Regions from separate parts of the Homo sapiens genome. Here region 1 is linked to region 2. The links come from fine-mapping of genetic effects on gene expression. Tissue or cell type: adrenal gland. Region 2 holds a variant in brackets; the other region holds the start of a gene. All regions are shown on one strand. Distances are from middle to middle.

Region 1 (5,381 bases), 35 kb before region 2:
AGGGAGCGAACGCAGCGCAACAAAACAAACTAGTGCCGGCTTCCTGTTGTGCAACTCGCTCCTGAGTGAGTCGGGGGCCGAAAGGGTGCTGCGGCTGGGAAGCCCGGGCGCCGGGGACCTGCGCGCGCTGCCCGGCCTGGCCGGAGCCTGTAGCCCGGGGGCGCCACGGCCGGGCTCGCAGTCCCCCCACGCCGGCCCCCCGGTCCCCGCCGAGCCAGTGTCCTCACCCTGTGGTTTCCTTTCGCTTCTCGCCTCCCAAACACCTCCAGCAAGTCGGAGGGCGCGAACGCGGAGCCAGAAACCCTTCCCCAAAGTTTCTCCCGCCAGGTACCTAATTGAATCATCCATAGGATGACAAATCAGCCAGGGCCAAGATTTCCAGACACTTGAGTGACTTCCCGGTCCCCGAGGTGACTTGTCAGCTCCAGTGAGTAACTTGGAACTGTCGCTCGGGGCAAGGTGTGTGTCTAGGAGAGAGCCGGCGGCTCACTCACGCTTTCCAGAGAGCGACCCGGGCCGACTTCAAAATACACACAGGGTCATTTATAGGGACTGGAGCCGCGCGCAGGACAACGTCTCCGAGACTGAGACATTTTCCAAACAGTGCTGACATTTTGTCGGGCCCCATAAAAAATGTAAACGCGAGGTGACGAACCCGGCGGGGAGGGTTCGTGTCTGGCTGTGTCTGCGTCCTGGCGGCGTGGGAGGTTATAGTTCCAGACCTGGCGGCTGCGGATCGCCGGGCCGGTACCCGCGAGGAGTGTAGGTACCCTCAGCCCGACCACCTCCCGCAATCATGGGGACACCGGCTTGGATGAGACACAGGCGTGGAAAACAGCCTTCGTGAAACTCCACAAACACGTGGAACTTGAAAAGACAACTACAGCCCCGCGTGTGCGCGAGAGACCTCACGTCACCCCATCAGTTCCCACTTCGCCAAAGTTTCCCTTCAGTGGGGACTCCAGAGTGGTGCGCCCCATGCCCGTGCGTCCTGTAACGTGCCCTGATTGTGTACCCCTCTGCCCGCTCTACTTGAAATGAAAACACAAAAACTGTTCCGAATTAGCGCAACTTTAAAGCCCCGTTATCTGTCTTCTACACTGGGCGCTCTTAGGCCACTGACAGAAACATGGTTTGAACCCTAATTGTTGCTATCAGTCTCAGTCAGCGCAGGTCTCTCAGTGACCTGTGACGCCGGGAGTTGAGGTGCGCGTATCCTTAAACCCGCGCGAACGCCACCGGCTCAGCGTAGAAAACTATTTGTAATCCCTAGTTTGCGTCTCTGAGCTTTAACTCCCCCACACTCTCAAGCGCCCGGTTTCTCCTCGTCTCTCGCCTGCGAGCAAAGTTCCTATGGCATCCACTTACCAGGTAACCGGGATTTCCACAACAAAGCCCGGCGTGCGGGTCCCTTCCCCCGGCCGGCCAGCGCGAGTGACAGCGGGCGGCCGGCGCTGGCGAGGAGTAACTTGGGGCTCCAGCCCTTCAGAGCGCTCCGCGGGCTGTGCCTCCTTCGGAAATGAAAACCCCCATCCAAACGGGGGGACGGAGCGCGGAAACCCGGCCCAAGTGCCGTGTGTGCGCGCGCGTCTGCGAGGGCAGCGGCGGCAGGGGGAGGAGGAGGCAGAGGCGGGGTGGCTGGACCCTCGGCATCAGCTCATTCTCCCCTGCTACACACATACACACACAAATAATGTTTCTAAAAAGTTCAGTTGCGACTTTGTGCCTCGCCTGTCCTGTTCATCCTCGTCCTGGGCCGGGGAATGCTTCTGGGGGCCGACCCCGGGATGCTGGCTAATTGCTGCCGGCGGGTTCCGTCGCCGGTGTGACCCTGGACGGCGCGGACGGCGTACAGGGGGTCCCGGGAGGGGCAGTGGCCGCGGCACTCGCCGCCGGTGCCCGTGCGCGCCGCGCTCTGGGCTGCCCGGGCGGCGCAGTGTGGACGCGGCTGCAGGGAGAGGGGAAGGGGGAAGAGGGAGGGAGGAAGGCAGCCGGGCGAGGAGTGTGGATGTGTGTGCGGCCGCGAGGGCCGGCCTGTAGCCAGCTGCTTCCTGAGTGTGAGCGCCGGAGGGGGAGGGGGAAGAGTGGGGGCGGGCTCGCGGGTCACTAGGCTGGCCAATTCGAAGGCCGAGCTTGTGTCTCCCTCTTGACGCATTCACACACACACACACACACACACACACACACACACACACTCCCCGTGCGCCAGAAGTCGAGGAACTCCAGAACAGGGTAACAGCAGGGAGACACTTCGCCTTCTTCCTGGCCTTATTTGTTAAACTGACTTATTTTAACATGAAAAAGTGTTAGTGTTTAGACAGGATTTGATGTCAGGTCATAAAAAAATAAACAAACAACCAAAAAAATCCGGTAGTAATACGGAGAGAATAACACAGTGAAAAATGGCAAAAGGGTTGCTTTGAAATATCGGATCGGATGCACATGACAGCTTCGAAACTGGATAGGTGAAGCACTAAGGAAGGCTTTGGCATCCTTTCCAAGTATAGGCAGGGAAGAGAGGAAGGTGATGGAAGTGTTAGAAGGGTATAAAATTCTGAACACAGGCTGTTAAGAATGGAGGTATATTCCCTGCGTATGTTACGTCTATAAAGTGGCACTTTATCCTTATGAATTCAACATCCTCAGCCTCATACCCCACCTAAGCTCTGACTCGCCACCGCTTCTGCTTGTGTTGACCAGAGCCCTCAAAAGGTTGTTACAAGAAAGTCTGCTCCTAGTAGTTCATCACATGTATTGCCACAGATGCAAGGACTTCCATCTTGGGAATCTAGGTATGTAATGCACACAATATCCTCCAGGTAGGCCTTTCTGCAGTTGACAGTATTATTCACCATCATGAATGAAATGAGTGAGGATGCCACCAGACACTTAGAATTTCACAAGTCCTTATATTCTATTCTACTGTTACCACTCCAATATAAATTAGCAATCAGGTAGTAGATGCTTTGATCAAGACAGAAGTCCTCAAGGACACAAATGACTTACCCCAGAAAGCCAAAACTAAAAGACTATTGGCAGTTTTCATTTATCTAATTTCAGTGGGAATACTACTAGGCTTGGTCTGTATCCATGATATTAACATAACCAAAAGAAGCCTGGTTTCCACAGTACTTTTTCTTTTCTTTTCCTTCACCTTGGGACACAAACTCATCAGAATATTTGTCAGCAGAAGTAGGGGATGAAAAATAGTAAGAGGTCAGGATATGTCATTCTGTCAGTTTTCCAGTTTCTCTCTGTTCATCTCTTTTAAATACAAGTATTCAAGCCCAAGATGGCAATAGATGGGCTCAACCACACGTAAGAAAAGAAAATACTCATAAAATGAAGCATGCAGCAACATCACAAAAACAAAGAAACCAAGTGGTGGAAATTGCCATGACTATTCCATTGTGGCTAGTTATTGCAACATGCCTGACATTCACATAAAAACTCTTCCTCATTAACTCCAGCCTTAAGGAACAGAGCAAGATGGCAACACTAACCCTTCAATGCATCATGGGAACTTCTGTTCATCAGATTCTTGTGCTGTACAACTGCTTCCCAGGAGCAAGACAAGCCTGGGTGGAGACTGCAAAAAACCTTTCCAATGTCCCTCAAATATCATTTTAAATACAATGGTTTTGATGCATAGAATGGTATCCTAGGGGCTTGCAGAAGCTTCTAAAACTTCCCAAATGATGGGAACAGCTTAGCTGGAAGAGAAAAAAATATAGTGCTACACCCAACTTTAATCAATAGCTCATGGAAAAAAACACTGGGAAAGTTAGGAGTCATCAACCTGGAGATCCCCAAAATCTCTTCATTTATAAGAGCCCAAGAGTGGGAATGTCATTTTATTTAGGTGTGATTTTCATGAACCTCTAACATTCCTAAAATATTTACCACTGAAGAGGTATAGTGCTTTGGTTGAATTTTTTTCTTTTTTTTTTTTTCTGGCCAAGAATGTAGATCTGCAATGTTCTTATATTCCATGGGTTATAGTAAAAATGCAGTTGTTCTTGTACCAGTACAACCCTGGAATGACTCAGAATGAGATCTGTACCTCTTCTGGGCTGAATTGGTCAGCAGGGGTGAGGGAGGGTGGTAATGAGAGACAGTGAGAAAGGAAATCATGTAGTTCCAAAATGATACTCTCCCTTACCCATGAGCTCTCCATCGTGCTTAGGAATCATACTCTGGCAGCCCTTCAGCCAGATAGGTGGGAACTGCAGCCCAGTCAGTATCTTCCCTCTCTAGAGACCAGTGTTGTATGTGCCTCAACCGCTGACTCAGGGCAGCTGACTCAGCAGACAGGCCCCTGCTGCCAGCTCCAGTCCAGTTCTCATTCATCAGAGAAATATTCAGTGAGTACACACTCTGTCCAAGTATTGGGACTAAAGGAATTAACACTTGTAGGCATTGTATATGGGAGGATATTACAGAAAACTTTTTGCCCAGTGTCTTAGTTGTAGCAAACCCTCAAGAAATGGGGACTCTTTGCATATATTACCTCATCTAATTCTCAAATCAAATGTATGATGTGGCTATGAATAATCTCCTACTTAGAAGCAAAGAAGTTGAAGCTCAGTAAACAGTTAAAGAGAGTCAGAGACAGAGCCAAGTATGCCAGTTTAGAAGCCCCAAGTTCAATCAACATTACTGTACTACAGAATAATTGTGCATGCTCTTTGAATGTGTATAAAACATATTGCAGGTGTATAAAGTGCAAAGCATCTTGTGGTCAGTGTTAGATGAGCACAATGAAGTTTGTAGGGAGTGTGGAGGAGGCAGGAATAATTTCCTGCAATGTGACATGGAGTAGCTTGGCTGTTTGAGCTGGACTTCAAAGAATGAGTAGAGAAGTGATAAGCAAAGGAGACCATTTCAAGTATAGGAATCAGCATCAAAAGGGGCACAGAAGGCATAAGTCCTGCATAGCAAGCAGCTCACTCAAAGCTAGAGTACAAAATAGGAACATCCACTGTCTCACAGCAATGAAACTCTCCCGAAGGAACATCCTGACAGCAAAACTTCAGAACTGCTATTTGAGTCACCCTGAGTGCTCTGACAGTAAACCACTTACAAACTTGCAAAGAACTATGATCAGATTCCTCCTCCCACAAAGTGTCCGTGAAAAGAAACAAATTTGAACCCCAAAATACAGATAAGTTGAGCTAATAGCACCAGTGATAGTATGCCTAGCTATTAAAACACAGACACACACACACACACACACACGAGCTGGCAACAGTCCAGTTACGTAGAAATGCAGTGGAAAAAGTTAGTGTTTGCCAACTTTAAGGGGGGAACTAAATGTGTAAAATGGAAAATTTCCATTTTACTTTCCTGAGTAGTACAAATAGTGGAATGCAGCAAATTTC
Region 2 (5,381 bases):
CTGGGGCTCTGGATGCCTTCTTAGGGCAGACAACAGTATACTCACTCTAAACTACCAACCTACCTCTGGACTATTAGATGACATAGAAAGTTCTCTAATCTTTGAGCTATTGTAGCTAATAGGCGGGAGTCAGCCTCATGTGCTCTCTATTGATACAGATTAAATTTGATACAAATGTACATAGGTGTTCCTCTACACATCTATTCAGTAAATATGTCAAAACGTCTACTGGGTACTAGATACTACATATTCTGAACCTTATACATGATAGTATCAATATTTCTGGGATGGGTGGTATTATTGTTCTTTGTTTACAGTCTTTATTATTGTGACTAACAGGACTGACATTAATCTTGATTCAATGTTAACGTTTTCAGCTCCCTAATTTTTATAGCATTGAGTGCTTACTCTGACAGCTGCTTTATCTAAGTCATCTCCTTCAATCTTCAGAACAACCTTATGAGACAGGTATTATCACTCCAGTTTCACAAATTAAGAAGCTAAACCTTAGCCAGGTGCTGCACTCTTATAGTCCTAGCTACTCAGAAGGCTGAAGCAGGAGGATTGCTTGAGACCAGGAGTTTGAGTCCAGCCTGGGCAACACAGTGAGACAAGAATGAAAAGGGAAGGGAAGGAAAAGTGGAGGGGAAGGAAAGGAAAGAAAAATGGGAAGGGGAAGGGGAATGGTAGGGGCAGGGGAAGGGAAAAAGGAAGAGGAAAGCAAGGGGAAGGGAAGGAAAGGAAAGAAAAAAGGGAAGGAAGGAAGGAAAAAGGGAAGAAAGGAAGGGAGAGAGGGAAAGAAAGAAAGAAACTAAGTCTTTTTTAAAAATTGACTTTAATTTGCTTAAGAACAAGCAAATAATCTAATCTTAAAACAGAAGGAGAGATTTCTAGTCTTCTGAGTGGTTAAGAGTGACAGAACAAGATCTTGCTCAATGACCTTTCAACATTGCTCTGGGCTAGTTTCCCAAATTTGATACATGAAACAATAGTTCAGAAAAGTGACCTATTCAATTTGTTTTAACCCAATGTTTCCCTAACATACTTGGCTATGAGACCCTTTTGTCAAATAATGCTATTAGCTTCCAATGGGATTTTTGTGAAGGGTGGCTCTAGACGTAATTGTGAAGCAATGTGATGCCCCCCCCCACCCCCCGCAACTTCATCTGTTTTGATTCCCCTCACTTCCAGCTGTTACACCTGATTGGAAATATCCTCCCAAGAGAAATTATATTATCATAAAGCTCCAAACAACACTTTACAAAAAGGTGCGATTTCAGGCAACGCCAGGGAAAACCACTTTGCATTGGGAATTTCTTGGATTCCTTAAATCCTACCTGGAATGGTGCCACCTTGTCTGCTCTGATGACCTCTGCAGGAGAGGAAAGGACTAGGGTTCCTGTTAGGAGCTTAAGTGCTTAGAAACAAAAGTGACCTCTTCATGAGGCAGACAATACTCTAGTCTCATAATTCAGAGGGCTTGAATTTGAGTATCAAGACAAACAGTTACAGCAAGTTCTGACTGAGCAGTGAGATCTCATAAAAATTCACCCAAATTTAGGTAATAGGAATTGATTCTACTACAGGTAAAGAAACTGAGTAAAGGGGACAGTGAAAGACCATCTGATAGTGTAAATTCCAGGCAGGTTCTAAATCTGTTTCCCAAGGAGCTTTCTGGATATAACATTCAGTCCTTCTACAAATTACAGAGAGATCACAGAACCTCTCAAAACAAGCAACAATTAAAACGTGGCAGCTACAGAGTATGTGGGTAGACAGAAAAGGTTGGCTGTCAAGGAGCTGGTGGCTGGAGAGGCAAGGAAGCTGGTCAGTGCCCTCTGTCCCCTCCACCCTTCCTGAAACAATTGTAGTGCAAATGCATGTTCATTAATCAGCAAGTCCAAGCTAGGGCAGACTTTTCTGGCTCTGTTTGCAGTGCCAGGGCTCTTGCTCCAGCGTTGTCATGGGGAAGTTATTGTTGTCCTCCTGGCAACAGGTTACCTAGGTGAACGCCAAACAGCCCAACCTGGCCTAGTGAGCACTGGGCCTGTTCAGCCACTGTCCCCATGCTGCTTTGCCTGTCTTCTCCTTATACTCCCTCAATCCACACTACTGCCCTTATGAGTCACAGCATTCATTCTCACACACAAAGGTGCTACAGAAGGCCACTTACAGCGAACCTGGGGCTTGTCCAA[G/C]GCCATTTTGTACTCTGACCTTTAAAAGCATGCCCAGCCATGGGCAGTCATGCCTGCTCTCTTCAACCCACAACTACAATAAGAGCAGCTCTCAGAAGAGAAATCATTTCCACCTTTTTTTTTTTTTTTTTTTTTTGAAACGGAGTCTTGCTCTGTCACCCAGGCTGGAGTGCAGTGGTGTGATCTCGGCTCACCGCAAGCTCCACCTCCCGGGTTCATGCCATTCTCCTGCCTCAGCCTCCCGAGTAGCTGGGACTACAGGCGCCCGCCACTATACCTGGCTAATTTTTTGTGTTTTTAGTGGAGACGAGGTTTCACCATGTTAGCCAGGATGGTCTTGATCTCCTGACCTCGTGATCCACCCGCCTTGGCATCCCAAAGTGCTGGGATTACAGGCATGAGCCACCGTACCTGGCCCCATTTCCACTCATTTTTACTGAGCATCTTAGTGCCATAATTGAAACAAATTAGAAGCATAAGAAATAACTCCAGTGACGATCAAAGTCTATACCACAAAGTGAAATGAAGCCCTAAGCCAATTAACCTGTGAAATTGATCAATTAATTGTAGACAGCTAAACCAAATGGTTCAGTTAAAGTAAATCCTCAGTTGCTCGTAAACTTGCCAGATATAGCAAATAAAAAGATCTGGTAATGCTACTCCATAAAGGGCTTCTGCTCTAATCATCTGAATTATCACTTCTGCTCCACGTGCTTTCCTGTGCAAAGCCTTCAAGTGTGAAAAACAGGCAGAATTCAGTGGTTCTGGTGTCTATCTCCCTCACCAGCCCTGGGGATGGCGTTAACCTAGCTTACACCTGGCATCTCACCTGTAGTACCCTAAGTAGCCCGGGGTTAAACAAGGGCACTTTCAACACGGCTTAGGGTTTTAGTTTAAACCTGAAACATCAGGATCTATTTAGACCTCTCTTAGAGGCATCCATCCCTTTCAAGAAGCCTCAGAACACACTTGGCATCCCCTGGGTCCCTTGCCCTACTCTGAATTGCCCCAGGGTCCTTCCCCCATTGAACCAGATTTAACAGGATAAGGTGATTCTTCCCTCATTCCAGCCTTGGTGTTTGTATCCAGTTCCAAGAAATTCAGTTAGTTAATACAGAGCTATGACAACCTAAGGTAAAAATTTGCGGACTTCGGTAAATTTACTTGGTGACAGGTGATGAAGAAGAAAGGGCAGGGAGCAAGCAGTTAGAAAACCTGAGTTTGGAGATGATGTGCTGTGAGATCTTGAGTAAGTCATTACACCTCTGTGGGCCTCCATTTCCCAATCTGTTTGTTACCCATAAGCCACATGGCATGATATTAAAGTAGGGTCACAATAGCAGTAGAAAGCAATAGTTCTCTGGCTCTAGCCCACTGCCAACTCTTCTCCCTGACCTAATCTTGGGAGTCTCCAAAAAGCATCTCATGTGGATTCAAAATCAGTCCTCTCCATGGCCACATGTGATATATGGGTTTCCTCTTCTTTAGCTCTGAATACTTTCAGAGATCTCTATGGCTAAGCTATCTATCCACTAAGCCCCTGGTGCTGCTGTAACTAGCATTAAAGTTGCTCCACAGGGCCAAAGCCACCAGGCCAGGCCAGGTCACCAATACTCTGGGTGGCAGTTCTGGGTCAGGGACCTGGATCCCTTAGGATCATTGCTACAGTTTCTGGTGCCAGACCCTGAGGGCACTGATACATGTGTCGGGGTGTTGATATCACCCTTTCTCTTGGCATCCTCACATGAGCCCTGAAACTGAATATATAGTTTCCGTTTTATGGAAAAGGAAAGTAAGACTCAGGAAGATAAAACAACAAAACCAAGACTGCAAAACCAGTAAGCGACAGAACTAGGGTTTAGACCCAGATCCACCTAACTCCAAACCTTGCCATTCCTCAAAACTATCACTTATGGGAAACGTGCGATGTTCACTGCTCCAGAGCTCATGTCCCAAGTCCTATACAATTTGTATATTCCTTTAGTTGGCAAGTTTTTATGATAGTAGAGAGATGTTCATACTAATTACACTACAGATCTGCTAAAAAGATCTATGAAAAGAGGTCTACAAAGTTATCTGTCAATTCTACATGAATACTCATATATTCTGATAAGGAAGACACTAACTCACTAAATTCCAAGAGAAAAATAGATCAAGTAAATGGACAATTTCCAGAGGACAGAATATAAATGACTAATAAATATTTAAAAATCTAATATTACTAGTAAATGTTTTTAAATGCACTAAAATGAGATACTACTTTTAACCTATCAAATTAGGAAAAGAAAATACTCAGAGTTGGTAGTGTCATTGGCTTCTAGTGCACAAACAAATTGGTACAACTTTTCCCGAAAGTAATTTGGCAACACATAGAATCATTAAAAGTGCAAATCATTTAACCCCAAAACTCTCATTCTGGGACACAGTCCTGAGGAAATAATCAGAAGCTCAGAAAAATACTTTATCTACAAAGACCTTCACCAAAGTGTTAATTATTGTAACAAAGCTGGAAATAACATAAATGTCTAACAATCAGAAAATAGTTAATTAAATACAGCCATATGATTAGATAGTATGCAGCTATTAAAGTGATATGGTCAAAAAATTAATGACATAGGAAATGTTCATTTGAAAATAAAGATACAAAATCGTACGGACAGTATTTTCATACTTTTGATTTAAACGAATGAAGGCAATATTTTGCAATGATTCTGAACATTTCTATGTACTCTACAATGATGTATATTTCCTTTATAATCAAAAAAATATATCTAACAAACAAAAAGCTTCAGGCTCCTTCCGGTCATTTTTTCTGACATGCTGAGTTGGACAAGGGCCTCAAGCATCACTGAAGTAAAAGAACATGGAGGATCCCTTTGGGCCAATATCTGACTCATTCTACCATATCACAAGGCCAGACAAAAGCTGATTAATGTTCATAATAATGATCACAATAGTAGCATAATAGTAGAGGTGGTAGCAACCAGTTTTGTTTACTCAGTACCAGGCTCCACTATCCATCTTTCAGATATGTTGTATCATTTAATCCTCACAAAACTCTATGAGGCAACTATTACCCCCATTTGAAAGATGAAGAAACTGGGGTTCAAAGAGATGAAAATATTTGCCCCAAACCACACAGCTTATGTGACCAAGCAGGAGCTAGGACCCAGATCTGATTTCCCA

What was found. PIP is the estimated chance that this variant, and not a neighbour inherited with it, causes the effect.
Region 1: GLIS3 starts here. The variant in region 2 is fine-mapped to the expression of GLIS3 in adrenal gland (GTEx, PIP above 0.99).

Annotation. Positions count from the first base shown.
Region 1 is chr9:4,298,053-4,303,433 of GRCh38, forward strand. It overlaps GLIS3 (GLIS family zinc finger 3), which reads right to left and starts at 2,016. Exons shown (of 11, transcript NM_001042413.2): 1 at 1,369-2,016. GLIS3-AS2 (GLIS3 antisense RNA 2) reads left to right here and starts at 1,249. Exons shown (of 4, transcript NR_186824.1): 1 at 1,249-1,371.
Region 2 is chr9:4,332,596-4,337,976 of GRCh38, forward strand. It overlaps a transcript of GLIS3 not described here. Among named protein-coding and RNA genes, the nearest start is that of GLIS3, 35 kb to the left of the region's middle. The variant G/C (reference allele first, on the strand shown) is at 2,196.